Homo sapiens: one gene and its partners. The protein of the gene in region 2 interacts with the protein of the main gene of each other region in a pairwise test. Each region holds a gene or a part of one and is shown on either strand. Other genes may lie near its edges. The genes, in order: COG5, MEFV and PSTPIP1.

Region 1 (11,304 bases), on a different chromosome or scaffold from region 2:
AGCTACTCGAGAGGCTGAGGCAGGAGAATGGCGTGAACCCGGGAGGCGGAGCTTGCAGTGAGCTGAGATTGCGCCATTGCACTCCAGCCTGGGCGACAGAGCAAGACTCTGTCCCAAAAAAAAAAAAAAAAGACTTCATCTCAAAAAAAAAAAAAAAAAAAAACCATAACTACTAGCTATAACTATTAATCCAAGAAAACAAGATCATTGTCAGTGAAAAGACAACAGGAAAATTGACTCTATATATATATATACACATATGTAATATTTATGGCCTCAGATATCTCTAGATCAATACACAAATACTGTTATAGCAAAGTGAATCTGGAATTTTAGTAACAATAGGAAATATAAATTTATAGGTGTTACTGAAATTTAGGATTTATGGGTGAAATATGTTAATGGAAAGAAAAGCTGTTTAAAATAGGCCCCTAATAGACAGAAAACAGAAGTAATACCAGATGTTAAAAAGATACCCCTCAATATAGAAATCCACAAATATGTGGATGAAAGAAAAATTAAGAGAATTGAAAGCTAAAAATAGATACCCAGAAGGGAGCTCATGGTAACCATGTACCAAATCTCCTAATGATACAGTAGATACAAGTAAAGCTGCCTTGAGAGAGATTATGAAACAAACAAAATAGAGTACTTTTAAGAAAACCTAAATTGTCTACATCTGCTATAATGTATGCTCCAAGAGGGGAAGAAGGTCTTTGTTTTGTTTGCTAACTCTTCTCCAGTGTCTGAACAATACCAGACACATGGCAGGTTCCATGAATTAACTAATCTATACATCAGCTGATGTATCATTAGTATCATTCTGGTAACAACCAACAACAAAAAGTAAAGGCTCATACTCTTGATTATTCTTAAAATGTAGTGGAATGAAAGAAGGAAACTGCTACTTTGGCTGCTTTTAAGTCTGAGAACCACATTTCCTTCTGATTTGCCAAGTGCTTCTCAGAATTAAGAGTCCTGTCAGCCAGACAAATGAAAAAAGCCATTCCAAGCAAAGGGAAGGTTTAGCAGTGGCAAATGCCATGGCATATTTTGAGAAACAAGGGGAATACTGATTTCAGTGTGTCTAAATCATAGCACATGTATATTGGACAGAAATGGTAAAGAATGACAGATGTGGTTCCAAAGGTTGGAGCGCAGTTTGAAAAGAGGTTTGTAAGACATTTGAAATGTTTAACCATATCTCATTTAACCCAAGAAATTGCACTATCAGCTTTATGTTACAGAACAATAATCCTGGCAGCTGTATAGAGGATGATGGAAAAAGGATTAGTCACACAGCAATGTGCTGAAGTTGCCTCTTATTGGCTCTTGAGCACAGACTGTTACATTTTCAGGAATTCTGTGAGCCAGTTGACCTTTCACACAGATATCTTAAAATCTACGATGGTGAGAGTATTTACACCATGGTAATCAGCAAACACTACAAAAATCAGGGCTTTTTCTATTTTCCCACAAAGCCAATTAACCAATACACCCAAGAAATAGAACCACAGAGGCCAGTAAAGTACTATGTTAACAGCCTAAGACATAATGAAGGCCCGACTAAGACCTGAATAAGTGGCACTAAGAATGTCAAAGTGACAAATTTGACAAATATTCACACTGCACAGGATGTAGGACTTAGTGACAAGCTGAAAATGGGTGATTAGGTAGAACAAACAAGGATTCCCAAATTTCTGGATTAAGCAACTGATACAGGAAATTTAGTTTTACACTAACTTAGACCACTAGACACTGAATATACCAAGATGAACATAAACTTCTGCCTCCAAGGAATTCATAATTTACAAGGGGAACAAGCACACATTTACCTAACAACATAGTAAACACAGATAACAGAAACTACCAGAGGAAAAGATTAGGAGAGAAGAACAGAAAAAGTGAATTCATTTCATTTTTTCATATGTAAACCTTGTACTATTTGTTCATATGTAGGTTTTCATGTGTATTATAGAACTAGCACTGCTTGTTTACTATCAAAATAGAAATGTCCATACAGGTTATGGAATGGCATATCATAAAAAAATTAAGATAGAAATGTCCAGTAGGCAGTTAAAAATATAGTTTTATAATTCAGAAGACAGGTAAGGAGCATACTGAAACCACAGACAAGACCAGATGATTTAGGAAAAAAAAGTTTTAGAATGCACAAAAAGGCAGGAAAATGAGGAAGATAGGAAAGTGGGGGGTGGACAGAGAAAATGAAAGCAATCAAAGAGACTAAAGAGTGCTCAGGGAGAAAGAGAAACAAAAAAGAATGGCAAAAGCCAAAAGAAGGGATAAAGAAAGTAAGTATTAGTATTGTCATAGAGCTTACAAAGATCAAACACAACGGGATGTGGCATTTGAGGGCTGACAGCCTTTAAAGAGATGAATTATATAATGCTTCTCTTTTATAGTTTCCTCATTCCCATAGAGGGCATATCAGAAACACCTCACCAATTTTCATACTATGCATCTGTGCTCACCAAGCCTATCAATCCGATACTCTGTCATTGGCCAAATCCCCGATATAGTGAATCAAAGTTTCTGCTGGAAATGCTTAATTCCTCAGGAATGTTGGGGGTGGAGGGGCAACAGAGACCGCTTAATTCAGAACAAACTGAACTGACAAGTATCTACAGGAACCTGGAAAAGAGCACCTAGAGAATTAAGAATTTTTAAAAAGCACGGCACCCATAAACCGCATGAGGAAAGTATTTCAAGAAAGGAATCAAATGTTATTACAAGTTAAAGGACCAAAAAAGTGTCCATTTGTCGTATGTGCAAGAAAGTCATTGAAAACCTTGCAAAGTTACTTCAATGGCATAGATTGAGGGTGACTGAGTCCCCAGGAAACAGGAAGAAAAAATCCAGAGCAAAGTAGGAGGCACTATCCTTAGAACGGAGCAGAGACTCGGCCGGGCGTGGTGGCTCACGCCTGTAATCCCAGCACTCTGGGAGGCCAAGGCAGGCAGATCACGAGGTCAGGAGATCGAGACCATCCTGGCTAACACGGTGAAACCCCGTCTCTACTAAAAATACAAAAAATTAGCTAGGCATAGTGATGGGCGCTTGTAGTCCCAGCTTCTCAGGAGGCTGAGCCAGGAGAATGGCGTGAACCCCGGAGGCAGAGCTTGCAGTGAGCCGAGACTGCGCCACTGCACTCCAGCCTGGGCAACAGCGCGAGACTCCGTCTCAAAAAAAAAAAAGAAAGAAAGAAAGAAAGGAGCAGAGGCTCCACTTCCGTTGCAATTGAAAAGGCAAGGGAAAAAAGGTGCAACAGATGGTTATACGTTGAGGTTAAATTCATAGGTTTGATGGGCAAGAAATGGAGAAAGTTCACATCTGATGGATCCTCTTTTTCTCCCCAGGGAAGCTTAAAGTCATTTGTTGAGCTTGAAGCGAAAGGTTTGAAAAGGGTAAAGAAGATTTAAACAATCACTGTGGAGAATGGCAGAGAACCAAGGAGGAAAATACAGAAGGCAGAACTGAAGAGTATTTACCGTCCAAGAACTGATTACAATTCCTGAAATACATCCTACTGAAACATATATCCAATGTTCCACTGTTCACCTGGGGAAGTCCTGTCTACAGTTTAAAACGTCTCCACCTAGAAAGCCTTTTCTGACATTTCCTAACCAGTTTCCAACCCCCAGTTATCATTCTCCTCTGTATTAATGCTCTACTTTATATGCAATCCTACTGCTATCTTACATCACTATATTACAGCACCTACCTTTATAGTCTACAAGATTATTTCCTCTACTAGATGGTGAACTACTTGAGGGCAAAAATTGCACGTGTATCAGGAGCAACTGCAAATATATCAGGGTCTCTGCCTTGTATCTAAAGTTTAAATTCAGTTTAGCCAAGTTTTAGACAGAGACCCGGTCCTAGAGTTTCCAACATGAAATAGTTCAGAAAACATCATTGCTTTTGACAAAAGTACATAAATTATCATGAAAAGGCACGTAATTCAGGATGACAATAAAATATTTAACAGTCAGAGAAAATAAACAATAATTTGGAACTTTATTTCATTTATTACCCACTTCGGTCTTCAAATGTGTGCATGTGCTTCTAACTGCGATGATGAATTTAAAAAACATTCTGCACCTACTGTATGCAAGATACTGCTATTCACACTGTGGGATATTAAAAAAAGTTTGCAATACAGAAGAGATTAAAACAAGTATACAAATGATTTTAGTACAAGGTAGAATGCGATGGCCACTAGAGAAAAAATTAAGAACAGGTGAGAAGGGCTTTATTTTTATGCTTATAAATGTGAACTTTATTCTGAAGGATAAGAGATTCGGGACATGGTAACTGGATTGACACAACTGAATATGCTTTTCAAGTATATTATATCTAACTTTTCTTATTTTGGGCAACTTCTCTCCAAACTGACTAGCAATAAAATCTGACTGCTAGATTCTGTACAAATGGTTAATCCCAACCTGAACAAATGTCTCAAACCCTCCCCCACGTGTCACTGTAGATAACTGCCTCATAAAGGAGGAAAAAAAAAACCAGCCTGTAAGAGGGGTCACCTGTACAGTCCATTTGTTAAAGGAGTAAGCGTTTCCAGCTCTACTTTAAAACAAGGCCCTATTTCATTATGCGTCTGCCGTCTGTTCTAGAGCTTACACTTTTGAAGAGCTCGAACGCTACACCCCTTCGTCAAGAACTGCGGCAGCAGCCGGTGGCTGCCAACGCGGTCCACAGGGTTTGGGCTCCCGAAACTTCAGGGAAGCTGGAGGCATGGGGGGGGGGGGGGTCGAGTTGAAATGAGGAACACACAGAAACCAAGTGTCCCCAAGACTCCAGAAAAGAGGGAGCCAGTCCCAGAGTAAATAGGTTGGCTAGAACAGTACCCAAGCCAGGGGGCCGGGCGGAGGGGAGTGGTCACGTCCAGACTGGAAAACTTTCTGCAAAGCAACGGGTTGGGTCCACCTCGCTGTCCAGGTGCGGAGCAGCGCAGACCCCCAACCCCACGACCTGGTCAGACCCCGTCTCCTTACCGTCCTGCAGAAGTTCCCGGACTGTAGCTGCAGCCGCTCCAGAGCCTCGAGCTCCGAGGCCAGCTACAGCGACGCTGCCGCCGCCACCTTCCATGTTGGCAGGTGCCGGGTTGATGTCGTCAGCAGCAGAACGGCTCCGCCCAGGTGGTGACGCAGAATCCCGGCGCCGCCCGCCCACCCAGCCCATGGCTCCAGGCCCACCTGGCGAACTGACTCTCAGCCCGCGCCTGGGCTAAGCCTGGCTAGGAGCCGCGCAGGTACTCGAGCAGTGGGCGCCCAGGGTCCGAGTGCTCTGCGCCCAGCGCACCGAGGGAGCCAAGGCCGTCGGGCCGGCGCTTTCAGCTGTCTCTCGCAGCAGCTCAGGGCCGCGCCCCCTGGGCTGGCGTCGTGCCCTAGCCAAGGAGAAGGTGGGCACCGGAACGTGGCCGCAGCGCTTATCTGTGAAGCAAGTATTAAACCTCAGAACAGGGGCCGCGCGGCGTAAGGCAGGAGAGCAGAGCGGAGGTTTCAGGGAGCTTCGTTTGCCCTCCACACTCACAAGAGTCACGCGTTAGTTGCTACACAGCTTTATCTGTTCCACGCCTTGATTGGCACTCCTGGGGTAATAAAAGCCCGCAGGAAATGCTTGGGAAGAAAAGTTGCTGGGGATGAACAGTGAAGAGAATTAGGGAGAGTCGATGAAGAAGGAAGTCTGAACCATAAAAGGACCAATAAAACTCACTGTCTCTACCCTCCTTCCTTCCCATGAGACCTTTGACCTTTTGCCTTTTCTACTTCTTCCTCAGTTTCAGTCACGTGCCAGACTTTTTCTTAATTACAAACTGATAGATGGTCCACATCTCAACTAACAGTATTGACGCTGTAAGAGCATCAGGTTGGTTCCCATTGTATCTTCTTTACTAATACGTTCGCGTTTTTGACCTAGATTTCTTTCTTCTAAGATAAATACTGATAAATTAACAGGGTCAGGCAACCACAAGTATGCAAGACAGTCTTAAGCTTCTTCGCAAAAAGAAGCTGGAAGATGACTTTTTCATTTTGTACAGTAGGTATGTATCCAGGAAACCAATTTTATCCAGTTCCAGAGCTACGTGGTTTTCTACATTCTGTTTCAAAAAGGTGCTATTACTTATCCTGTGCTTATCGCTGTTCTAAGTATTTTATAACTCAATGCATTTCATACTCATAACACCTCAGGTAAGCAAGTCTTATGCTACACTGCATTATGCTCTCTTTGTCTCAGAGGATTTTCCCTAGTATGTAAGATCTTAGTCATGATGGGAATAGGGGTGATTCATTCATTACTTGTGAATTAGGAATTGTTTTTCCTTCCTTGGCTTTATTCCCCCCAGTGGAAGATTTTAGAAGAGTGAGTAATATTCATTCATACAGCGAAAGTTTTGACCCCTCTACTCTGCATGCTCTCATGAGTTTACAAACATAAGACTCAATCCATATTCTAAAAGGAGTTAATAGGTAAGGTAGGAACCCATTTAAACAAACAATTGTACCAGGTGCTTTGGAATCTTTGGATTTACTTATTCCAGTAATTCCAAGCTTAGCTGCACATTGAAATCACCTGAAGAGCTTTAATAAAAACACTGATGCCTGCATCCTGAGCCCAGACGTTTGGATTTAATTGGTCTAGGGTATGGCTTGGGCATGCTAATTCTTAAAAGCTCCTCGGGTCATTGTAGTGTACAACTAAGGTAGAAAGCTACTGATTGTTTTGTTTTGTTGAGTTGGGGTCTAGCTCTGTTACCCAGGCTGGAGTGCAGTGGCAGGATCGTGGCTCACTGCAGCCTCAACCTCCTGGGCTCAAGGGATCCTCCTGCCCAAGCTTCTGGAGTAGTTGGGATCACAGTCGCTTGCTACCACGCCCAGCTGATTTTTATAATTTTTTTAGAGATGGGGGTCTCACTATATTGCCCAAGCTGGTCTCAAACTCCTGGCCTTAAGCAAGCCTCCCACCTTGGCCTCCCAAAATGCTGAGTTTACAGGTGTGAGCCCAGTCCCCTGAAACCTACTGATTTATTCTTTCAGCAAATAAATATTGAGGCCTTCTGTATGCCATTTACTATGACTGCAGGAGTGGATAAAAATGAAGTAATTCTTGCTAAAATCACTAATGACCTTGTTGCCATTGCGCTTTATTTTTGCCTTACTTTGATGTTTAAGATACCTATCCCCTCCTTCCTTCATAATGGTCTCTCTCGTTTTCTGAGTATCACTCTTTAGGTTTATTCCTCCCAGCTCCAAAGTTCATCTTCAGTCTCTTTTGCTCTCCCCTTTTCCTCTGTTACTTAAATATTGGTGCTTCCAGCGGTTTCTTGCAAGATCCTGACATCCTTAAGTACCTTGGCTATTTTTAATTTCAACTCCTTGCCTAAAGGTTAAAGACTCTAAAGTTTGAGCAATTAGACCATTCTAAAGTTGGCCCATATCTGATTCTTTTTTTTGTTGTTGTTATTTTCTGCTTCATTTTTCCTTCATACATACCTGTTTCTAAGTTACTGAGGCCAAGGACTGGAATATGAAAAGTAGCCAACACTGTGAAATAGTAGGATTTTAAGTATAGCAAATGTAAAACATTTACAAACTCCATAATTTCATCACTCGTACCTGTACCTCTTGGGGTATAAAAGTGATTTACAATGCAATTGTAGAATTATAATTGAAATTTTCACTAGATAATATCACATTAAAATTTTTAAAAATAATTAACGTTTGTTTATCTTCTGATTCACAGACAGAACAGGATTCAAGAATTACAATAAAAGCACCAGCATATCTTTTGAAACACTGACTACTTAAGAGTTGCTCTATTAATGCCATTTAACTTTCCTGAATAAAACAAGATATTTCCAAATGCCAGTCGAGTATCATATATAAAATAATTCAAACCAAATTTCTTGGCTTACCAATCCCAACAAAGTAACATGTAAAAAATTTTTAAATAACATGAAAACTTACAACATGGTAAACTAGGGAAAAAAAAAAAATCTCGTTTTCTGCATCTTGTGTTTCCACAACTATCTTGGGTAGTTTTCCACATCTATTTATCTTACAAATAGAGGCAGCATTCTATAGTATCATATTGGATACTGTGAAAATAAGCTATTAATAAAAAAATTTCTGAGCCCACAAGCCTGATAAAAAATATATGTTGTTGGCAGTTGAAATTGTTAGAATGGAATTAATATAGTGAAAACATATTTTCTCTATACAAGCTTATTGTCTTTTTCAGATTTGAAACATATCTGTATTAATGAAGAGTGACTGCATGCAAACGACAATATGTCAGGAAAGAAAAAAAGATCCCATAGAAATGTTTCATTCTGGACAGCTGGTAAAAGTCTGTGCCCCAATGGTTCGATATTCAAAGTAAGTGTTGCAAAATGATTAATGAACTAAGATGAAATTTCCCTTTTATGCTCTGACTTTTTAAAAGTACTGTAAGACCACCCACCATATGGGAACTTCAAACTCTTAGCTTTGGAATCATGACTTAGAATTGAGTCATGATGCTACTACTTGCCTAGTATATATGTGATCCTGAGTAAACAATTAACTTCTCTGAGCTGCACTTTTTATATCTATAAAAATGGTGGTGGTTGTAACTCCTACCTATAAGTATATAATGGATATTAAATAGATATAAGTATTGATGTATAGATTTTTATGTGAACTTAAGTCTTGGGACAAATAGGAGTGCAATTATGGGTCCTAAGGTAGTTGTGTGTTCAGTTTTCGAAGAAATATTTCTTCGTATCTTTTGCTCATCTTCTAATTGGATTGTTTGCTCTTTTACTATTGAGTTTTTTTAGAAGTTTGTTATAAAATATACGTAACATAAAATTTACCTCTCGATCATTTTTAAGTATACAGTTCAGCAGTGTTAATTACATTCACATTGTTGTGCATCTGATCTCTAAAACTCTTTTCATCTTAGAAGATGGAAATTCTATCACATTAAACTGTGACTCCCCATTCCACTGTTCCTCACAGCAGCCCCTGGCAACCATTATTCTACTTTCTCCCTCTATGAACTTCACTACTCTAGGTACCTCATATAAGTCTTATACGTATTTGTTCAGAACTGGATTTATTTTGCTAATATTTTATGCAGCATAACATCCTCAAGGTTCATTCATGTTGTAGCATATATCAGACTTGTTCCTTTTTAAGGCTGAATAATATTCCATTTTATGTATATTTTGTTCATTCATCTGTTGATATCCATTCATATATTGATAGAACACAAGATAACTTCCACCTTTTGGCTACTGCAAATAATACTGTCATGAACTATGGGTGTACAAATACCCATATACAAATACCCATGGTTCGTAACAGGTCTCTGAGACCCTGCTTTCAATTCTTTTTGACTATGTACCCAGATGTAGAATTGCTGGATCATATGGTGATTCTATGTTTAATTTTTTGAGCAACTACTGTACTGCTTTCCATAGCAGCTGCACCATGTTACCTTACCACCAGCAGTGAACAAGAGTTTTAATTTCTCCACATCCTCATCAACACTTGTTATGTTCTGGGAGTTTTTATTTTATTATTATAATCATCCTAATGGGTGTGAAGTGGTATCTCATTGCAGTTTTAATTTGCATTTCCCTAATGATTAATGATGCTGAACATCTTTTTGTGTGTTTATTGGCCATTTGTATGTTGTCTTTGTAGAAGTATCTATTCAAGTGCTTTTGTCCATTTGTTTGTTTTCTTGTTTTCTATTATACTCTAGATATATATTCTGCTTTGTCAGATGTGTGATTTGCACGTATTTTCTCCCTGTATATGGCTTGTCTTTCATGCTCCTAACAGGATCTTTTGCAGAACAAAAGTTTCATTTTAATGAAGTCTAACATCAATTTTTCCTTTTGTAAATTGTGCTTTCGATGTCAAGTATAAGAAACCTTTATGTAGCTCCAGATCCTGAATATTTTCTCCTAAGTTTTTTTCCCTAAAAGTTTTATAGTTTTATGTTTTGCATTTAAGTCCATGATCAATTTTGCATTAACTTTTATGTAAGTGTGAGGCTTAGGTTAGGTTGCCTATGGATGTCCAATTACTCCAGCATCATTTTTGAAAGGCTATCAGCCAGGCACAGTGGCTCACGCCATCAAATCCTAATCCCAGCACTTTGGGAGGCCGAGGTGGGCAGATCATTTGAGGTCAGGAGTTCGAGACCAGCCTGGCCAACATGGTGAAACCCCATCTCTACTAAAAATACAAAAATTAGTCAGCGTGGTGGCGCATGCCAATAGTCCCAGCTGCTGGGAGGCTGAGGCAGGAAAATCGCTTGAACCTGGGAGGTGAAGGTTGCAGTGAGCCAAGATCGCACCACTGCACTCCAGCCTGGGCAACAAGAGTAAAACTCCGTCTCAAAAATAATAATAAAAAAAGAAAGGCTATCTCTCCGCTAATTCTTTGCTTCTTTGTGAGAAATCAGCATTTTCTGTTTTGTTCCATTGATCTTGTATCTTTTTCCCCACCAATACCACACAGTTTTACTATATAGCTCTATAATATGTCTTGAAATCAGGTAGACTGGTTCTTCCCAATTTATTTACTTTTTCAAAATTGTTTTAGCTATTCTAGTTCCCTTGCTTTACAAATAAATTTTAGAATGACCTTGTCTATCTCTGCAAAAAACCCTGCTGGAATTTTCATAAGAACTGTGTGAAACCTATACCTCAACTTGGGAAGAACTGACTTTCTTACTAGGTTGAGTCTCCCAATCCATGAACACAGTATATCTTTCCATTGATTGAGATTTTCTTTGATTTCTATCATCAGTATTGTGTAGTTTTCAGCATACAAGTTCTGCACATGTTTTGTAAGACACCCAGGTTTTGAGCATGTTTGTAAATAGAATTTTTAATTTTTGGTGTTCACATGTTTATTGCTAGCACATAGAAATAGATTTTTGTATGTTGATCTTATATCCTGAAAACTTGCTAAACTCACTTGTTGGTTCTAGTTTTTTTGTAAATTCCTTCAGAGTCTATATGAACAACCATGTCATCTACAAATAAGGACAGTTGGATTTCTTCCTTTTGATCATATGCCTTTTGTTTCTTTATCATGCCTTATTGCACTGACTAGAAGTTTCAGCGCCGTGTTGAATAAGGGTGATAAGAGCAGACTTCCTTACCTTGTTCCTAAGGCAAAAGTGTTCTGTAGGAATTTTGTGGATATACTTTATCAAACTGAGGCAGGTTCCCTCTACTTCTGGTTTTCCAAGAGTTAGCTTTTT
Region 2 (10,539 bases):
TGGGAGTCTCAGGTCTACCAAAATCCAGATGACTTTAGTTCAGGAACGTCCCTTTCTTCACTCTGGCCTTTGGAACTGGGTTAGTAAACTTCCTTCAGGCTCCTAATGGGTTTTTTAAGAAGCAGGTCAGGGTCACGAAAGGCAGGAGCTGGAACACCTGTTCTTTGAGACTTCTTCACTACATTTATGATTAATACTCATGTCAGACAAACATCTCTAGGTTAGCAAAAAGGGATTGCTATGCAATCATATGAACGGGGTTGGTATAGAATCTTCTCAGTGCTGTTCACCATGTTGGCCAGGCTGGTCTCGAACTCCTGACCTCAAGTGATCCTCCCGCCTCAGCCTCCCAAAGTGCTGGGATTTCAGACATAGGCCACCGTGCCCGGCTTATTTTTATTTTTAAAGCGTATAATCTGGGTTTTGCTGACCTGTGTAAGATCTTATTTGAAACAGTTGTCCTGCTTAAAACGTTTGAAAAGTACTATTTGAGAAATATAGGCTAGGCATGGTGGCTCACACTTATAAATAATCTCAGCACTTTGGGAGGCTAAGGTGGGTGGATTGCTAGAGCTCAGGAGTTTGAGACCAGCTTGGGCAACATGGTGAAACCCTGTCTCTACCAAAAATACAAAAAAATGAGCCAGGCGTGGTAGCACACACCTGTATTTTCAGCTATTGAAAAAACAGAAAACAGGCTGAGGTGAGAGGATTGCTTGAGCCTGGGAGGCAGAGGTTGCAGTGAGCTGAGATCACATCAGGGCAACAGAGCAAGATCCTGTCTCAAAAAATAAAATAAGAGAGAGAGAAATACATAGCAACATCAAGCATGTTCTTACTGAATGGTAATTGACTGCCATTGTCTAGTCTAGGAAGTCCTGAACTTTTGTTTTTGAGATGGAGTCTTGCTCTGTCACTCAGGCTGGAGTGCAGTGGCCCGATCTCAGCTCACTGCAACCTCCACATCCCGGGCTCAAGCGATTCTCATGCCTCAGCCTCCCGAGTAGCTGGGACTACAGGTGCGCACCACCGCGTCTGGCTGAGTTTCTTATTTTTAGTAGGAACGGGGTTTTGCCATGTTGGCCAGGCTGGTCTCGAACTCCTGACCTCAAATGATCCTCCCACCTTGGCCTCTGGAGAAGCTGGGATTACAGGCATGCGCCACCACGCTCAGCTTATTTTTGTATTTTTAGTAGAGACGGGGTTTCACCCTGTTGGTCTTGAACTCCTGATCTCAGGTGATCCTCCCGCCTCGGCCTCCCAGAGTGCCGGGAATACAGGCATGAGCCACCGCGCCCGGCCCGTTGTTTTCCTCAATTTCTAAACTTTAATATCCAAGGGGATTCTCTCTCCTCTGCCCTGAATCTTGGGCCCTAAACGTGGGACAGCTTCATCATTTTGCATCTGGTTGTCCTTCCAGAATATTCCACACAAGAAAACGGCACAGATGATTCCGCAGCGTCCAGCTCCCTGGGGGAGAACAAGCCCAGGAGCCTGAAGACTCCAGACCACCCCGAGGGGAACGAGGGGAACGGCCCTCGGCCGTACGGGGGCGGAGCTGCCAGCCTGCGGTGCAGCCAGCCCGAGGCCGGGAGGGGGCTGTCGAGGAAGCCCCTGAGCAAACGCAGAGAGAAGGCCTCGGAGGGCCTGGACGCGCAGGGCAAGCCTCGGACCCGGAGCCCGGCCCTGCCGGGCGGGAGAAGCCCCGGCCCCTGCAGGGCGCTAGAGGGGGGCCAGGCCGAGGTCCGGCTGCGCAGAAACGCCAGCTCCGCGGGGAGGCTGCAGGGGCTGGCGGGGGGCGCCCCGGGGCAGAAGGAGTGCAGGCCCTTCGAAGTGTACCTGCCCTCGGGAAAGATGCGACCTAGAAGCCTTGAGGTCACCATTTCTACAGGGGAGAAGGCGCCCGCAAATCCAGAAATTCTCCTGACTCTAGAGGAAAAGACAGCTGCGAATCTGGACTCGGCAACAGAACCCCGGGCAAGGCCCACTCCGGATGGAGGGGCATCTGCGGACCTGAAGGAAGGCCCTGGAAATCCAGAACATTCGGTCACCGGTAAATTGTGTTCTTTCCTACTTTATATCGGCTGCAGAGAAAGAATGGCTGGCCGGGCACGATAGCTCATGCCTGTAATCCCAGCGCTTTGGGAGGCCAGGGCGGGAGGATTGCTGGAGGCCAAGACTTTGAGACCAGCCTGGTGAATGTAGTGAGACCCCCGCCATCTCTATAAACGAAATTAAAAAAATAAAAACCCAAAGGTTGGGCAGGGCGTGGTAGCTCTCGCCTGTAATCCCAGAGCTTTGAGAGGCCTGCACGGGAGGATCTCTTGACCCCAGGAGTTCCATACTAGCCTAGGCAACACAGTGAGACCCCATCTCTACAAAATACAATAGTGGCACGCGCCTGTAGTCCCAGCTGCTCGGGTTCACTTGAGCAGACGGAGTTCCAGGCTACAGTGAGCTGAGATCATGCCACTGCACACCAGCCTGAGCAACGTAGCCAGACTCCACTTCTACAAAACTAAAAAAAAAATTAGCTGGGTATGGTGGCACACGCCTGTAATTCTAGCCACTCAGGAAGCTGAGGCAGGAGGATTGCTTGAGCCAGGGAGTTCCAGGCTGCAGTGAGCTGAGGATGTGCCACTGCACTCCGGCCTGGGCAACAGAGCAAGACCCTGTCTCTTAAACATTTTGGGGGGAAAAAAAAAGAAAGAAAGAATGTCCGATTGAAAAAGGCAATCAGGTGTTATCAGTGGCCAAAGAATGGAGAAGGGGAGCTCACCTCTGCAGGCGTCTGCTTGCCAGGGATGGGAGGCAGGGCGATTTTAGAGTCCAGGGAGGGGAAGGGAGATAGGTAAGCAGGCCCAGGGCAGGGTTCCATATGTGCAGGCGCTGTCCCCAGCATGCTTCTTCCTACATCGCATGGACACAAAACCCTGGCCATCTTCTTTTAGGGGAGGGACCTTTAGCCTTATAACAATGTGTAAATGATCTTAAGGTAACTGGAAGTCACCTCTTCCAGTTTGCACTGGTTTTGCTCTGATCTTAACTTCCTCTGGTTTTTGGCAAGGGATCAGGAGGCTCCAGGCCATCTGGATTTTTTTAAGCAGCTGTCCCTATAGGTAAAGAGACTAAAAAAAAACTGTAAAAGAAAAATGCCACCAGTTTAGAGGGTACCGAGGCTATCCAGGTGACAATTCCATGCTCGTGGTGGGGGCAGCATTCAGAAACACACTTTCCTTTTTTTTTTTTTTTTTTTTTTTTGAGACAGAGTCTCAGTCTGTCTCCCATGCTGGAGTGCAGTAGTGTGAGCACAGTTTACTGCAGCCTCAACCTCCTAGGCTCAAGCGATCCTCCCACCTCAGCCTTCCAAGTAGCTGAGACTATAGGTGCTCACCACCACACCTGGTTAATTTTTTTTTTTTTTTTTGTATTTTTTGTAGTTACGAGGACTGTCTATGTTGCCCAGGCTGGTTTTGAACTCTTGGGCTCAAGCGATCCCCCGCCTTAGCCTCTAAAAGTGCTAGGATTTCAGGTGTGAGTCACTACACCCAGCCTATGGAACACACTTTCCAATGCATTGTTGGCTGGAGAGGAGAAATCACAGCACTCAAGGAGGAGAAATAGAATTGGGGGTCCAGGCCGGGTGCGGTGGCTCATACCTGTAATCCCAGCACTTTGGGAGGCCAATGGGGGCGGATCACCTGAGGTGAGGAGTTCGAGACCAGCCTGCCAACATGGTGAAACGCCATCTCTACTAAAAATACTAAATTTGCTGGGCGTGGTGGCGGGTGTCCATAATCCCAGCTACTCAGAAGGCTTCGAGGCAGGAGAATTGCTTGAACCGAGGAGGCAGAGGTTGCAGTGAGCCAAGATCATGCCACTGCACTCTAGCCTGGGCGACAAGAGCAAAACTCTGTCTCAAAAAAAAAAAAAAAAAAGAATTGGGAGTCCAGGGACCCCTGAGACCTGGGAGGGGAAAGGATGTGGTATGCTGCATGAGTCTTCAAATCCAGAAGTCCCTGGGTCTTCCAGTGAGAAAGGACCCTGGGATCTGGAAAACCTAGCATCCTTAGGAATAGTGACCTGAAAAGTACTGAAGTATTTCCCCCCTAATTTTCTTTTATCCCTACTGTATTTTTTTTAATTTTTTTTTTTTTTTAGATATGGGGTCTTGCTATGTTGCCCAGGTTGGTCTCGAACTCCTGATCTCAAACAATCCTCCCATCTTTGCCTCCGAAACTGCTGGGATTACAGGTGTGCACCACTGCACCAGGTCCCCACTGTATTTATATCATTGGGATTCCTGGGTGTCTTCTAGGGCCGCTTCGTTAATCTGATGCAGGCTTAGACCCTGAAAAATGCATATATGCACAGCTTCACAAATGTCACATCAAATTTCAGGTAGTTCTTGGACACTCTGAAGACCATCTTTAGAATCCAAGGGGTTTATGGACACCAGGTAGAAAATCTGGGGAAGACTGGTTAAAAATACTCCCTCTCACAATAACCTCACAGCAATGCATCATCATGGGGTTGAGATTCTACCATTTGCCTTTCTCTCAGCAGAAAGAAAAGCCTATTGGCTAAAGTCCTAACTATCTACTGCTGAGGTAGTCATTAAAATTATGTTTGGTTGTGAATAATAGAAACACCCAAATAACAGTAACCTCAACAGAAAAGAAGTTTGTGCCTCCTTCACATAAATGATACACAGGCGGTCCCAGGCAGATCCGTGGGCCAGGACCCTGGGGTCCTGCTGTTGCTCTGTCCCACCAAGTTTGTCCTCAAGCTTCTGCTCTCAGAAGGTGACGTCCTCATGCCAGGCAGCAAGATGGAGGAACAGAGGGGAATAGTATCCCTCGGGAAAGCTCTAGAAGTTTCTAGAAGCTGCTTGTGACACCTCCATTTACATCCCTTTGGTCATATTATTGTCAAATAGCCACACCTAACTGCAAAGGAGGCTGAGAAATGCAGGGCATTTGGGGGGCAATGGGAGGCAGGGAAACAGGGAAACGTGGACAATTAATTCTATCACGAGAGAAGGAGGGAGAATAATTTCTGGTGACTACTAGCAGTCTCATTTACAGATGTGCTGTGAATTTCTGGGACACTGTGAGGTGGGAGGAGGTAGCAGGGGCTAAAGGATTGAGTGTGTTTCTATTTCTTTTTTTTTTTTTTTTTTTTTTTGAGATGGAGTCTCTCTTGGTCACCCAGACTGGAGTGCAGTGGCGCAACTTCAGCTCACTGCAAACTCCGCCTCCCGGGTTCAAGCAATTCTCCTGCCTCAGCCTCCCGAGTAGCTGGGATTACAGGTGCCCACCACCACGTCCGGCTAATTTTTGTATTTTTAGTAGAGACAGGGTTTCACCATCTTGGCCAGGCTGGTCTTGAACTCCTGACCTCATGACCCACCCGCCTCGGCCTCCCAAAGTGCTGGGATTACAGGCGTGAGCCACTGCGCTCGGCCTTGTGTTTCTATTTCTTCTTGTATCTCGTGGCATGTCTGCTTATGAAGTTGCAATTAGAGTCTTGGAGTAGAGCTATTCATAACTGTTAGGTCTTCATGATGAGTTCCAGTCTTTAGCCCTATAATGCCCCCCTTCTTTGCTTTTTCTTTTAAGATGGCATCTTACTCTGTTGCCCAGGCTGGAGTGCAGTGGTGCAGCATCAACCTCCTAGGTTCAAGCAATCCTCCTGTCTCAGCCTCCCAAGTAGCTGGGATTAGAGGTGTGCACCACCACACCTGGCTAATTTTTTAATTTTTTGTAGAGGTGGGCTCTTGCCATGTTGCCCAGGCTGGTCTCAAACTCCTGAGCTTAAGCAGTCCTCCCACCTTGGCCTCCCAAAGCACTGGGATTATAGGCATGAGCCACCACCCAGCCCCTTCTTTGCTTTCATTTAATGGTTATTGAACTCATATGTGAGCAGTGGTCTATTTATTCCTTCATTCAATACTCATTTTCCAAATGCTTGCATTTGCCAGGTACTCTGCTAGGGGCTGGGATCCAGCTAGGAGCGAGGTACACAAGTCACCATCCCCTGGAAGCCTCCACTCACGTTATGGGCAGCCAGGGATGGGTTCAAGTGGCAAAGGAACACTGGTCAGAATGTCTCTTTCCTTGGCATCACCTGCTAGATCTATGTCTGTGCAGGAGGAACAGCACAAGGCCATGGGTCTTTCTTTAGGATAAATGCCCAAGAATTCCAAGGCTCAGGAATGTCTGAGGTCTGGCCCTTAGCTCTCAGGCCCAGTGGCCTGTTTGCTTCCTCACTGGATGGAAGTCGGGGGAGGACAAGCTAGGAAGTGGGCAGAGTCTAACTGAGAACTCGCACATCTCAGGCAAGGGCTGTGTCCGCTGTGCTTTGTGATACCTCTGTGTAAGCAACTTGGGTTTGCCATTCAGGGGGTTTTTCCACTGCATGTCCCCAGGAAGGCCACCAGACACGGCTGCGAGTCCCCGCTGCCACGCCCAGGAAGGAGACCCAGTTGACGGTACCTGTGTGCGTGATTCCTGCAGCTTCCCCGAGGCAGTTTCTGGGCACCCCCAGGCCTCAGGCAGCCGCTCACCTGGCTGCCCCCGGTGCCAGGACTCCCATGAAAGGAAGAGCCCGGGAAGCCTAAGCCCCCAGCCCCTGCCACAGTGTAAGCGCCACCTGAAGCAGGTCCAGCTGCTCTTCTGTGAGGATCACGATGAGCCCATCTGCCTCATCTGCAGTCTGAGTCAGGAGCACCAAGGCCACCGGGTGCGCCCCATTGAGGAGGTCGCCCTGGAACACAAGGTAGGCACTCCCTGCCTGTGGGCTCTTCTCTGCCAGGCACTTGGACACACTGGGCCTTACTTCATTTTCCCAACAACTCTGGGTTGTTGGTGCATTAACCAGCATTCTTGGGCTGGAAATGGCAAGAACACAATATAAACCAGTCCAGCAAAGAGGGGAGCTACAGGTTTATGTTGCTCAGAGATCCAGGGGGAGCTGGCTTCAGGTATGGCTGAATCCAGAGGCTCAGAGGAAGTGCCTCTCAGCTCTGCTGCCTTTGGCAATTCAGCCATTCCTCCCTCCTCTTTCCTGAGCACCCCTCCCCATGCCGCTGGCAGCAGCACCCTCAGCCTTGCTACCAGAAGGAGATGTTCCCCTCCAGAGTTGGCACCAGCTAAAGATGGCAGGAGCCAAATTCAAGCTTTTCAACAAGTGCTGTTTTTCCAGAAGAAAATTCAGAAGCAGCTGGAGCATCTGAAGAAGCTGAGAAAATCAGGGGAGGAGCAGCGATCCTATGGGGAGGAGAAGGCAGTGAGCTTTCTGGTAAGGTCAGAGGTGGCTGATGGCCCATCCGTCCCTGGGAGGAAGGTGGGAAGAGTGAGCAGGGGTCCCCGAGATTCTGCTGTGGTTCACAGGGCAGCAGGGATGGCCACCTCCTCTCAGGGGACAGAGGGTAACCAGCAGCCAAGGGTAAGCTCATCCCTGTAGAGGGAGACCACCCCCAGCAGGCAGGGGTCACCTCTGAGGATCCTGTCATGCTTTCTCATACTCACCAGAAGATGGTAGAGAGCAACCTATGCCGGTGACTACTGCAGAAAGATGGGATTGAGGAAAAGGGAGGAGAACGCCACTTTCTTTTTTTGTGACGGAGTCTCGCTCTGTCACCCAGGTTGTAGTGCAGTGGTGTGATCTTGGCTCACTGCAACCTCTGCCTCCCGGGTTCAAGCGATTCTCCTGCCTCAGCCTCCTGAGTAGCTGGGATTATAGGTGAGTGCCACCATGCCTGGCTAATTTTTGTAGTTTTAGTAGAGATGGGGTTTCACCATGTTGGTCAGGCTGTTCTCGAACTCCTGAACTCGTGATCCGCCCGCCTTGGCCTCCCAAAGTACTGGGATTACAGATGTGAGCCACTGCGCCCGGCCAAGAACACTTTTAACTTCATAATTTACTCTCTGTTTTTTTGTTTTGTTTCCAAGATGGAGTCTCGCTCTGTCACCCAGGCTGGAGTACAGTGGCACGATCTTGGCTTGCTCCAACCTCCACCTCCGAGGTTCAAGCAATTCTCCTGCCTCAGCCTCCTTAGTGGCTGGAATTACAGGCGCCTGCCACCGCGCCTGGCTAATTTTTGTATTTTTAGTAGAGACGGGATTTCACCGTGTTGGCCAGGCTGGTCTCAAACTCCTGACCTCAGGTGATCCACCTGCCTCGGCCTCCCAAAGTGCTGGGATTACAGGTGTGAGCCATCGTGCCTGGGCTGGTTTTTTTGTTTTTTAGGGTTTTTTTTTTTTTTTTTTTTTGAGATGGAATCTCACTCCGTCGTCCAGGCTGGGGTGCAGTGGTGCAATCTCGGCTCACTGCAAACCTTCGCCTCCCCAGTTGAAGCAATTCTCCTGCCTCAGCCTCCCGAGTTGCTGGGACTGTAGGCACATGCCACCACTCCTGGCTAATTTTTGTATTTTTAGTAAAGACAGAGTTTCCCCATGTTGGCCAGGCTGGTCTCGAACTCCTGATCTCAAGTGATCTGCCCAACTCAGCCTCCCAAAGTGCTGGGATTACAGACATGAGCCAATGCACCCAGCCCAAATTTCCCCATTTTATAAGACAACATTTATATTGGATTAGGGACCCACCCAATCCCAGTAGGACCACATCTTAACTAATTACATCTGCAAGAACTCTTATCTCCAAATAAGATCACATGCTGAGTACTGGGGGTTAGGGCTTCAACGTGTAAATTTTGGAAGGGACACAGTTAAACCTTAACACCAGGTTTAAGGACATTTTCCCAGAGCTAGCCCCAGCCATGCTCAGTCTTTTCTGGAAGGTTCCAGACAATATCGCCTCCTGCTCTGGAATCTAGGCCTTGAAGAGGCAGCATAAGCCCACCTCTTATCCACCTCCAGGAGGTGGGCTTCTGGGGGTTCCTGGACATCCACGTCCACCCACAGCACAGACCCCCATACCTCCCTGTCCTCTGCTCCCCAGAAACAAACTGAAGCGCTGAAGCAGCGGGTGCAGAGGAAGCTGGAGCAGGTGTACTACTTCCTGGAGCAGCAAGAGCATTTCTTTGTGGCCTCACTGGAGGACGTGGGCCAGATGGTTGGGCAGATCAGGAAGGCATATGACACCCGCGTATCCCAGGACATCGCCCTGCTCGATGCGCTGATTGGGGAACTGGAGGCCAAGGAGTGCCAGTCAGAATGGGAACTTCTGCAGGTGGGTGTGCCTGGGCCCGGCTTTCTTGGGTCCCCTGTGCCTATCAGGATGCCTCAGGCTCCCAGCTCTGCCATCAGCCGTGCTGGAACAAGTGGGTGAAGCCCCTAAGGCCTAGGATAGGACTTGGTCTTGGTGACCCACAGTGCCTCTTGTGCCCAGACCCCTTTGATGAGGTCTCTCAGGAGCCCAGGGTGGCCTGGTATCCAGGGGATCTCTGCCATTTCCCAGAAGGGATCAGCAGGGCTTGAGGGCCGTTCCATTGCAGGCCTCGCCACCTGGGATGCCTGAATTCCCGTGGTTAGAATTAGACTTGAAGAAAGGTGCTCCACTTCCACTGACACCCTAGGGCAGGGAGCCCTGGTAAGTGCAGCGGGGAGCTAAAAGTCCAGGAGCCCAGAAGTAGAGGCCAGGAGTCAGCCCAGCCACTAGGAGCCTGGTAACCGACAGTTTCCTTCTTTTTTCTCCTAGGACATTGGAGACATCTTGCACAGGTACAGCGAGGTCCTGTGGTGTACCCTGGGGTGTCTTGCAGAAAGCATATGGGGGAGACAGTCCCAGAAGGGACCTGGGAGGGAGATGTTCCCAACCCCGGGGTCTGTGATTCCAGACTCCTCCTTTTTTCTGCAGCTTCCCAAAGCCTCTCTGGATTTGATAGGGAGAAGGGCATCTGGTCAGCAGGGAGGCTGGCCGGGTATGGAGCTGCAGACTGGGAAGGGTGAATTCAGCCCATCCTGCTGAAACAAGATGGAGGCTCCCTAAGAAACCTTCCGAGTGCATTGTGTCCCGTGCAGTTCATCTGATGAAAGCTGCCCCTTCAGGCCTACTGGTGGCCTTGGGAAGCTTGTTTGGAGTGGAGCTGGGCTAAGCCCAGCAGGAAGGGGAGGGGAGGGAAGGGACAGGAAGAGGCTAAGCCTTAAAATCACCTGGGAGCTTTACAAAATCCCGGTGTCCTTTTGTGTCTGGCTTCTTCACTTAGCATAATGTCTTCGGGCTTCATCCGTGTTGTAACGTGTATCAGAATTTATTTTCTTTTTATGGCTGAATCATAGTCCAGTGTGTGTTCATACATTTTGCTTATCCATTCATGGATATCGGGACTTCTTCTAACTTTTGGTTTGTGAATAATGTTGCTATGAACAAGGGTGTACAAATATCTGCTTGAGACCCTGCTTTGTTATTTTGGGTACCTACCCAGAAGTGGAACTGCGGGACCATGTGGTTATCCTGTGTTTAATTTTTTTTGAGGAACCACCATCCTAATTCTCACAGGGGCTGCATCGCTTCACATTCCCACCAGCAGCACACAGGGGCTCCAGTTTCTCCACATCTTTGCCATCACTTATT
Region 3 (10,539 bases), on a different chromosome or scaffold from region 2:
ACCTTACAGACACCTGCTCCATCTCCCTGCACCTGTCTCTGCTGCCTTGAAGCAGGTTGCACAGGAACAGCACTAGCACTGGACTTCCAGGCAGCTGAGTCTGAGGGGCGTGTCTCCATCTACCTCTGGCCGCCTTGTGTTTGCTCCTTGCCTCCTCTCTCACTTTTCTTCTCTTTTCTATTTCTTTTTCTTTTGAGACAGGGTCTTACTCTGTCACCCAGGCTGGAGTGCAATGGCTCAATCTCGGCTCACTGCAGCCTCTGCCTCCCAGGTTAAAGTGATTCTCCTGCCTCACCCTCCGAGTAGCGGGGATTACATGTGCCCGCCACTACGCCCAGCTAATTTTGTATTTTTAGTAGAGACAGGGTTTCACCATGTTGGCCAGGCTGGTCTCAAACTCCTGAGCTCAAGTGATCCACCCCTCTCAGCCTCCCAAAGTGCTGGGATTTCAGTTGTGAGCCACCACGTCCAGCCCTCTCTCTCTTTTCTGCATGTTTTGGTTTCATGACACAGGAGAAAGAAGTGGGGATTGGGCTGGCCCCATGAGAGTGAAGGAGGGGAAGCAGGCGGGGAACTCAGGCAGTGGGGTGCTTTCCTGCCTCATCATTGAGAAGGCCTATTTAAAAGAACAAAGCTTTCAAGCCAGACAGACCTTGGTCAAAAGCCAGACGCCCCACAACATTAGAGAGAGTCACCTCTCTTGTCTTCACCTTCCTCATCTTCATGACAGACAGTAGCTGCCTCGTGGTCAGTATTGCTGAGGGCAGGTACCACACTCATGCACAGTGTGTCCTTGTCCAGTGCCTGTGTTGTCCCTTCAGTGGGACCCCTGGGAGTCCCTGGAAGCTCACAGGGCTCTGATGGGGTCCCTGTCAGCCACGGGCCTGTGGGCCTCCCAGCACAGTGGAGCCCAGCCCAGGCATCTCTGGGACTCGGCCAGCTGGGCTGCTCAGGTGAGGGGCCCTGTAAGGCCCGGCAGAGGCCATCAGACTGGGACTCGGAGGAGAACTGTGGCACTCTGGAAACTCATTTCTAATCTCAAGGTCCTGTCAGCCCAGGTGAACAAAGAGTCGCTCATCTGACATTAATGCACATTTGTTCTCTAAAAACTAAAAGTCTGTCTTTGCCTTCTTGGCCCTCTGTCTTCAACACTTACCCTGGGCCATCTCAGACAGCTGTAAGTCATCTTCATCCCATATTTATTTGCTTATACATGGATCGCAGCAGTACTTGAGTCAGGGGACCCCTAGACACCAAGTCCCTAGTTTAACAGGCCATCTGAGGCTTGAGTCCTCTCTGTGGAACCAGACCTGCTTACAGACTGTAGTGATGGGCGCTCCTCACCTGTCAAAGCCCCCCACCCTCTTTCCATACCTACAGCCATTCAGGCTCCTGGGAAGCCTTTCCTTGCATTGTCCTGGAGTTGGCCTCCCTGTCTCTGCCCCCATGAGTCCTGGCTTGGGCTGGGAAATGCCAGCCACTAGTGCTCCCTCTGCTTCTGATGGCCCCACAGAGATCTCCAGGTGAGACTTTTCCTAGGCCATTCCCTCACAGCTTTGGCTTGGAACTCTCCCTTCCCTCCCTATCACCTCCTCCCAAATACTCTGGGTAAGCAACCGCCTTGTTTACTGAGGGCTCTGGCCATCCATCCATCCATCCATCCATCCATCCATCCATCCATCCATCCACCCACCCACCCACCCACCCATTCACCCATCCACCTGTCCATCCATCCATCCGTCCACCCATCTGTCCATCCATCCATCCACCCACTCATCCATCTACCTACCCATCCACTCATCCACCCATCCACCCACCCATCTACCCATCCATGCATCCACCCACTCACCCATCCCTCCATTTGTCCACCTGTCCACCAGTCCACCCATCCACCCACCCACCTATCCACCCATCCATCCATCCACCCACCCACCCATCTACCCATCCACCCATCCATCCACCCACCCATCTACCCATCCACCCATCCATCCACCCACCCATCTACCCATCCACCCATCCATCCACCCACCCATCCATCCATCCTTCCATCCATCCATTCATCCATCCATCCATCCATCAAGTTGTACCTGAGTGTTTGGTCCTTTGCCTGCCTCACTTTGCCAACCAGTAATGGTGGAGAGGAGTCCCACTGTGGGGTACTGACTGTAGGGCGGTGGAAGGAGCCTGGTTGCTACCCATTGACTTAGCATCCCTGTGCCTCTGTTTCCGTATCTATACAATGGGGATGATAATTCCTGTCTCAGAGGACTGTTGTAAGAAGTAGAGGGGACCAGTGTGACTGGCTTCTTTAAAGGTGCTGGGTAATGGGTCATTGAATCTGCAAGCAAATGATCTGGTCCCCTCCATGGGGCACCTCAGGAAGCAGCCGTCATAAGGCCTTGTCCTCTTGAAGGCCTCACTGAGGCGCTTCTCCAGCCCATCACTCAGCATGTCTGTGAGCAGAGCTGTGTGTAGGCACCAGGTGCCGGGATCCAGTGGGGAACCTGAAAGACCCCCCTCTGCCTCCATGGAGCTCAGCCCTTCCTACCTCAGGTTTTCAGTCCACAGAAGACAAGCAACAGGAAACTAGGTGCTAGCAAACCCACAGTGTCAGCCACACTGGCTGCAGATGTCACTGCTGGTGTGAGGGAGGAGAGCACCCCAGCACCATGCAGCTCCGTGCAGCTACCTTCCAAAGCTGCTGCTACGTCTTGCTTCCCCACCTGTGGCCCATGCTGGAGCTTTCCCAGTCATCTTCAGGTGTAACCCAATCCAGTCCAAGCTAGTATCACAATTTCACTCTCATTCAATTTAAAGCTCCCCAGTTCCCCGACTTTCACTGGAAGCCTCTGATGGGGAAAAGAGAACAGGGTCAGTTTCCTCCCTTGCCATGGGGTACCCACACTGCACTGCCAGCTGCCTCTGGGGTCTCCATGGGGGGGTGGTGGGGCACAGGCCGTGACTGTAAAGGGGAGAAACATCTCATTGCCCTGGTACTGTTGTAACTGGTGACAGTGAATGCACACAGGTCAGCCCTTTCTCTCCCTGGCACCTGGGCAGGTTTTTTGGTGACCCTGCCCCCCTGGAGTCCCTGACCACTCCGTTCCCTACAGCCTTCCACTTCCAACCTCTCCCGTTGCACCCAATAGTCTGCTCCACTCAGCTTCTCCTAGGGGCTCCTCTCTCCCTGTCAGGCTATTCTCATGGACAGAATTACCAGGCAGCTCTTCCTGGCTACCTTCCACGGCCCCCACTTGGTTCCCAGGGAAGATTTTGGTGCCAGTTCTTGGACATAGCAGGTAGGAACTCGGACCAAAACCCAGGTGTCCCCCTCCAAGGTTGGAGGCTTAGCTGTCCTCTGATAGATGCTGTATTCTGGAGTGCCAGGCAAGGGAGCATTTGAAAAAGGCTCTGCTCCCCTTTAAATGGAACCTCTGGTGGAGGAAGGTGTGTAGGGCGAGAGGGGAGGTGATGAGGTGACTCATTTCTTCCAGCCTGGCCCCAGCTGAGGGAAGGTGTTTCTGGTCGGGGAGGTGGCAGGCAGGCGGGGAGGGCTCGGGGAGCTGCTGCTTGCTGAACTGCCCCTGGGTGACAGGCCCTGAGTGTGGGGCTTTGCAGAGAGGCAAAGTAATGGGAAGTTAACAGCCAAGATCGTGGCTTGGGATATCTGGGTTATATCCCAGCTGCACCCGGCAGGTCCCTGGGCAGATTGGGTAACCTCTCTGGGTTACCTTTTCCTCATCCATAAAATGGTAGTCATCACCCCTAGCCCAGTATCTGCCTTGTGGTGAGCCCTGATCTTGAGTCCACTGTTCTCACCTATGCGCACGATTTCACTTGCTTCTCGGGTCACCTCTAGGCGGTGAGAACTATTAGGCCCATTTTCACAGGGAAGGAAACAGGCTGAGAAGGGCCAGGGTCACGGGAGGTGTGAACCCACATCTAGTCAGTCAGACCCTTCCCAGCCTCTCAAACAGGCCCGAGTACCCTCTCTGACCTGTGGCCTACACTAACAGGACTGTGCCCTAGAGGGGCGGGCTGTCAGGGCCCGAAAGGGGGTTAGCCTCCTGCCCCCACTTTCCCAATGAGGAAACCAGGTCCTGAGAAGTAAAGTGGCTTGCTTCAGGCCCTGGTGTCTGTGGTCTCGCCCCTGCAGCCACCAAGAGTTATGGGCGTGAAAAGGGGGAAGTGGCGGTAGTTACAGAGGGTGCTTCTCCACTCAAGCCGTGGGGGTGTGGAGGGCCCTGGCCGGCTCACAGGCCTGGGCCGTGGCTCACACCAACACCCACCAGAGAATGAAGCCAGTAGGCTGTCCCTGACAGAACAGGGCACCCAGGCCTTGGCCACACTGCCTCAAGGCAGAGGCAGGAATATGTTTCCTCCCAAGAGCCTCCTCCTGGAGTTCTGGGATGCCGCCTGAGGCCGATGGCCACACACCATGGACGGCGAGGGCTGGGTCCCACATCTGGCTCAAGTGAGCCTCCCAGAGGAAGAGACTGTGCCCGCTCCCCACCTGGCACCCCTAATCCAGGACGGGTTATCCTGGGTGCCACATGGCTGGGCCGTGACCACTGGCTGTTCATGGGTTACCCAGAGCCGCACTCCTCTGACCCAGCCTGGGCCCCAGGCTAGCCTCTGTGAATCCACAGTAACTGAATTATAGCCCAAAATACAGCTTTGATTTGAGGTGGAGATAATTTGAGTAATCATTTTCAAGAGTTATTTTTTCAAATCATGTTTGGATGTTCCAAAATAGAAAATGGTTCCTGGGCTGTCTACTAAATGGCTGATGTAGGTATATGGCTTTGGGGACAGGTTGACCTGCATTCAGATCCCAAACTCTGCCCTTTACCCATTGAGTGGCTTTGGGCAGTCTCTTTCCCTGTTTGGGCCTCCTGTCCCCATCTTCGCCTCCCGAGATCTGTGTTGTGGTCAGGAAGATAACGCTATGATACCCTTGGTGCAGTGTGTGCCAGGTAGACTTGATAAATAGAGATTTCACAAAGGGCAGGGCCACAGGCAGCATTCGGATGACAGAGGTTGGACAGGATGAGGGGAGATGGAGGTAAGAGGAGTGGGGGACAACTAGGGTAGGTCCCCTGGGGGTGATGCTGATGCTGGGTCTTGGGTGGCAGACCCACATGACTGATTAAGTTACAGGATGATTGGTTCATTCATTTCCTAAACACATCCTGAGCCTGACTGTCCCAGCTCAGAGCACGGAGTCAGACCCATGCCCTCGAGGAAGTGGCAGGGGTGGGGGTGAAGGAGGAGGGCGCGGGCTGGGGGAAGGGGTGCAGGGCTGGGAGGCATCGTGAGCAGCCCCTGGAGAGTCAGGCACTTCCTCGGAACATCCCAGTCCTTGTGACAGTAGCTCACTCGGCCACAGCCCCTGCCAGCAGCCCAAAGCTCTGAGCGGGGGACTGGGCGGGATCCTGGAGCCTGCAGCCTCTGGGGACTTGAGCACGGCGGTCACAGCCTGCAGGGCCTCTCGCTGCTTTCTGACTCCTCCCGAATGGCCAGCGTAGGTTCGGTTTGCTTCTCTTTCCACTCTGGGGGCCTCCATAAGGACAGGAGAAGGGTTCCCTTGGCGTCAGGGCTGGGTGTGGGGCTGGGCTCCAGGTGGCCTCTCCAGAGGTATCAGGAAGGAATGACAGGTCCCCTGAGAGTCCGGATTCTTGTCCTGACTCTGCAGCGTCAAGCAAGCCATTTCCTTCTCTGGCCTCAGTTTCCTGAGGAGTGAGGGAAGCCGCACAAGGTGGTTCCCAGTTCTCAGGGCGGGGGGGTCTGTGGCATTCTGACATGAATGCTGGTGTCCCTCCGGGCAGGTGCAGGAGGCTGAGGCCCCAGATTTGTTTTTCTTCCCAGCCGCCAGGAGCTCTGACCTGAGGGTCTGGAGTGAGGGCAGAGGCTGAGGGGTGGGAAGGGGAGGGCTGCTGGCTGCAAGCAGCTGCCCACCAAAACCACAGAAATGGAAGCCTGGTCCAAGCTAACCCAGTGATGTCAACCTGGACATGGGGGTGGGCGCCTGCCTCTGAGGCTGGGGGGACAGCTTCTGGCCTTCCAGGCTAGACACGCTGCTTGTTGCTCTGTGGACAGCTGAGCCTGGACCAGGCCCTCCTCAGGAATTTCTAGGGATGCTTATGGAGGGGGTAGGAGCTTGGGGTCCTAAGTGTCCTACAGGCCAGGAGAGTCCACCTGCTGAGGGTGGGCTGGAGTTTGTGGGGAGGGGGGGCACTGTTGGGGCAATTTATGCCATTGCTACCCCTACTTCAGATTCTTCTTAGACCTTGGAGAATACCTTCTCCTTCCAGCACCTGACTCAAATGCCTCTTCCTGCAGAGAGCTCTCCTGGATTTCGACTCCATCCCTGTTCCCCTCACACCCCTAAGGTGGCATTTGAGGGGAGACATGGGTCAGGGGAAGGAGTACCAGGCTTTACCTGAGTCATGTGTGTGCGACCCTGGAGTGTGCGTGACCTTGGAGACTGTAATGTGTGTGGTCAGGGGAGCTGGGACTTCTTCCTCCAGTCTCTGAGGCTTTAGGGGTCCTCAGGGATAGAAAGGAAGACAGACTAGGTGCGGAATGTCAGGCCTGCCTTGGTGCAGTTGGTGACAAAAATCCTGTCTCCCCAGCACCTCTCAAGCTCCCCTGGAGTAAGCCTGCGTGCAGTGCCTGGGAGAGCTCAGGGGGTTGTGGCGGGGATCCTGGCCCCGGGACCCACTCCCCAAGCCTGGGAATGTCCTGGGAGACCTCTGTTCCTTCATAGTCCTTAAAGACTACCTCCCTCCCCCAACTTCTCACACCCAGCTTCCCACACCAGCAGCTCAGACACACACCTGGAATCCACTGCACAGTGAGAAAGGAGAATTGGGTTGGCCAGGAACAACAGCCAGGGCAAGCAGGGCAAGTGCCAGGCAGCAGAGGGTAGCTGTCCCTGGAGAGTTCTCTGAGGCTCCCCACCCCACCCCAGTCCAGAGGTGAATGTAGGGTGTGCTTGCGCATGCTCTGACCTGGACTGAAGTCACCCTCCATGCCCACCTCCCTGGATCTCCGTGAGGGGGGGTTTCCTGAGCCCACAGAGAGCCCAGCGCAGCATCTGGCACATGGCTGGTGCCCAAGAAACCGCAATTGCTGTGATGGTCATGGAGACTGCACAGTGCTGAGGTGAAGGGCAGGGACCCCAGCCAGACAGCCTGGGGTTCAAGGCCAGGCCAGCCACTTTCCAGCTGGGCCGCTCTGGATACGATCACATGTCACCCTCCTACACCTCGGTTTCCCCACTTAGCTGAGATAGGGATATTGGAAGGGTGGCACTGTGAGTGAGTGAATTTCAGGCCTGGCTGTCATCAGGGGGACTTAAGGGTGGCTCTTCCCATCTGCTATCTCATGCTGATGTGTGTCCTGTCCTGTGAGCTCTCCAGATGCCAGGCCCGGCACCCCCGGCCCTGTCAGCTGGGTGGGGCTCACTTATGTACCTGTCACCTCTGCAGATGTGAGGGGACCTCCTGTGTGCCTGTGTAAAGCCAGGTCTGGAGTCCCAAGAGCTTGCCCTGAGCAGGGGAGATGGAGGCAGGAGGGAGGCTGTTCCCAGAGATGGTGGGAGGGTCCCCACAGGGCTGTGCTCAGTGTCGCCTGGTCGTGGCCCTCATGTGTCCTTCTGTCCTGTGTCACAGTGCAGGGACTTCACAGCCCACACGGGCTACGAGGTGCTGCTGCAGCGGCTTCTGGATGGCAGGAAGATGTGCAAAGACATGGAGGAGCTACTGAGGCAGAGGTGAGCTGCTGGGCAGGCCATGGGGAGCGCAGGCAGGAAGCAGGTGGCTTCCGCTCGGCTCCTGGGACAGTGGACGAGGCCCCCATCCCAGCCAAACTCTGTCAGAACACGCCCTGCTTTAAAAAACTCTTCTGTGTTCCCTCAAACCTGGGCCTCCCCCAGAGGTGGCAAGTCACTGATGATCTTTCAAATGCCCTTTTTTTTGCAGGGCCCAGGCGGAGGAGCGGTACGGGAAGGAGCTGGTGCAGATCGCACGGAAGGCAGGTGGCCAGACGGAGATCAAGTAAGATCTCCCGGGCCCTGGGGCTCACTCCTCTCCTCTGCTGGCAGTTTCTGGGCCTTTAGATGAGGTTTAGGTCTTCCTGGCATGGGGGAGGCTGGGCAGAACCAGGGTAGGTCTGGATTGCTCCTTGGTGCCTGGTTATTGGGCATTCAGGGTGAGGCCAGGTTCTGTGAGGGAGGAAGCCCGAGGGTCTGAGTTCTGGAAAGGGTCTGGGCAGGGGAGACAGGAGGCCATCCATCCTCAGTCATTTGCAGCGCAGTCTGCACCAGCCTGGGTGGCCTCCACTGAAGTCCTGAGGGGCAGGTGACAGGCGTCTCCACTGGTGGCTCAAGTCCCCTGCAGCACTGGCTCAGCATGGGCTTCAAGGATGGAGATGTAGCCAGAGACAGGGGTCCAGGAGGGGACACACCTGGGTTCCGGTGTCAGCTCCTCACCCCCCAGCTGTCTGACCATGGGCTGGCTGCTGACACACTCTGTGGCTCCGTTTCCTCATCAGTGATGGGAAAGTAACGCAGCCCTCCTCAAAGGAAGAAGTGGGCCCATGGGCTTAGCTGAGGCCTGGTTAGAGGGCAGGCCGTCAGGGAAGTGGCTCTGATGAAGCGGGAGTCTCCAGCCCCACAGGTCTCTGCACGCAGACTGCTGGGGTGGGAGGCCAGGTGAGGAGATGAAGGTGAGTTCAGGACACAGCCACCCTAACAGTGGAGTGGAGGGGCTGCTCTGGGAAGGCCCAGACTGTCCCCCTGGGTGAGGACAGAGCCAGGCCAAGGGGCAGACAGACCACCGGCCTCCAACTTCTTGAAAGGGCTCTGCAGAGTCCTCCTGCCGAGGGGCCCTGAGCCTGACCCTGCAGCTGCTGTGGAACCCCTTCCCTTCCTGCCTTCTCCCCCGAGAGAGGAACTGAATGTGCCATACTCTGAAGGTCCCCCAAAGACACCAGGCACCCTGGCGGCTCCTGCTTCCAACCAGGAGCCAGAGATCACAGGAAGGCTTAGATGTGGCATGAGCCGTGTGTGAGGCCAGAAAGTTGCACACAGCCCTGGGAGGACGGAGGGCTCTGAGGAGCCCTTGGAGCTCTGGTCCCGGCTCGGCCAATCTGAGCTGTGGGACTGTGGGCCAGTCGCCTAGCCTCTCCAAGTTTGTTTCTCACCTCCCACTCCAGCGAGCTGCCGTGCAAATCAACAAGAACATGGTCTGAGGGCCTCCCAAGGGAAGGGCTGAGGGCCGGGTGCAGGCTGGGCACAGAGGAGGGCTCAGGACATGGTGAGGAGTGAATGGACGTATGCAGGGAGGTGTTTTCTGCAGGAAGCAGTGCCCAGAGCTCTCAGCCAGGGGAGGAGCAGCTGTGGGGGCCTGGCAGCATGACCAGGGGAGCCCCTCCTGGTCTCCTGGCCTCCCAGCCTCCAGGCCAGCTGGAAGAGAACTTTCCCAGAAAGAGAGGGTACCTCATGGGGAGAACTCAGAGACTCAGGAGAGGTGGAGAGGGTGGCCCCAGCAGGGCACAATGGGAGCCAGGCTGGAGTGGGTCTGTGTGATGCAGGCTCAGGGGATTGTGAGTCACAGGGGATTTACAGCAGGGAAAGAGAAGCTACCCACAGAAAATACAATGGGGGTGGGGAGCAGGGTGGGCCTCAGGAAGCAGGAGGTACGCAACATCTTGCTCCATTTGTAGAACTAGGAAGGGGCCAGGTGGAGGCTCTGGGCGGCCCTGATTGCGCCATGGTTATTCAAGGCCAGGTGGGGCAGGGTCTGCCCTGACTTATCCTTTGTGTGGCCCTGGATGGTCCTCCCTGTCTCTGAGTCCAGGGTCTGTACCTATGGAAGGGGATGGTCACTTGGAGAGGTGTTCTGGGCAGTCACAAGGACAAGCAGAGAGTGCCAAGCCACAGGGGTTCACTGCACACAGTGGGGCTCCATAGTGTTGCTCTTGACCCATGTGGCATGAAGTACTGTTGATGAGGCCATGCAGCTGTTCCTTTCGGTGTAGGCCAAGCATCCATCCTCCATCCATTTAGTCACCATTTAATTGAGGACCTACTATGTGCCATGCCCTGGATGGGTCAGGAGGATTCACTAATTTAAAATAAAATAAAGGGCTTTGCCATTCCTTAGCCAGAGTCCAGCACAGTGAGGGTGACTTCCTTCTCCTTCCTAGTCCTTTGCATTAGGGCCCATTTATGCGCCACCTCCTCCAGGAAGCCCTCCCAGACACCTTGCCTTGCCTTACTGTCAGAGTCTTGGCTTAGACCCAATTACCCCTCCCCATGCCAACCTGAAGGGCTTTTGGTGGGGAAGTGTGAGCAGTGGCCGTGGACCTGTTTCCTCATCTTAGACTCCTGTGGGGGGGGGGGGTGTGTGTGTTGGCCCTCAGGAAAGGTGACCCGGCTCTTCAACATCGGGGCTGGTGGCCCACCCTCCAGGGCCCATCCCTGAGTAGGGGAAGCCCCTGGCCTCCCTGAGGCCCACAGCTGCCCCCCAGGTC

The links.
Region 1: the proteins of MEFV (region 2) and COG5 interact in a two-hybrid assay, tested with the Homo sapiens proteins (one study listed by BioGRID).
Region 3: the proteins of MEFV (region 2) and PSTPIP1 interact in binary tests that used the Homo sapiens proteins (3 or more experiments, as listed by UniProt).

What each region holds. Positions count from the first base shown.
Region 1 is NC_000007.14:107,558,773-107,570,076, forward strand, and holds the start of COG5 (conserved oligomeric Golgi complex subunit 5), read right to left. Parts: upstream 5,149-11,304; 5' UTR 5,125-5,148; coding exon 5,031-5,124; intron 1-5,030. Other genes in the region: DUS4L-BCAP29 protein, read left to right, coding at 8,299-8,414; DUS4L (tRNA-dihydrouridine(20a/20b) synthase [NAD(P)+]-like), read left to right, coding at 8,299-8,414.
Region 2 is NC_000016.10:3,245,672-3,256,210, reverse strand, and holds part of MEFV (pyrin), read left to right. Parts: intron 1-1,420; coding exon 1,421-2,053; intron 2,054-6,430; coding exon 6,431-6,780; intron 6,781-7,206; coding exon 7,207-7,302; intron 7,303-8,964; coding exon 8,965-9,195; intron 9,196-9,663; coding exon 9,664-9,686; intron 9,687-10,539. UniProt on the Homo sapiens protein: Involved in the regulation of innate immunity and the inflammatory response in response to IFNG/IFN-gamma.
Region 3 is NC_000015.10:77,010,472-77,021,010, forward strand, and holds part of PSTPIP1 (proline-serine-threonine phosphatase-interacting protein 1), read left to right. Parts: intron 1-7,676; coding exon 7,677-7,777; intron 7,778-7,985; coding exon 7,986-8,060; intron 8,061-10,539. UniProt on the Homo sapiens protein: Involved in regulation of the actin cytoskeleton. May regulate WAS actin-bundling activity. Bridges the interaction between ABL1 and PTPN18 leading to ABL1 dephosphorylation.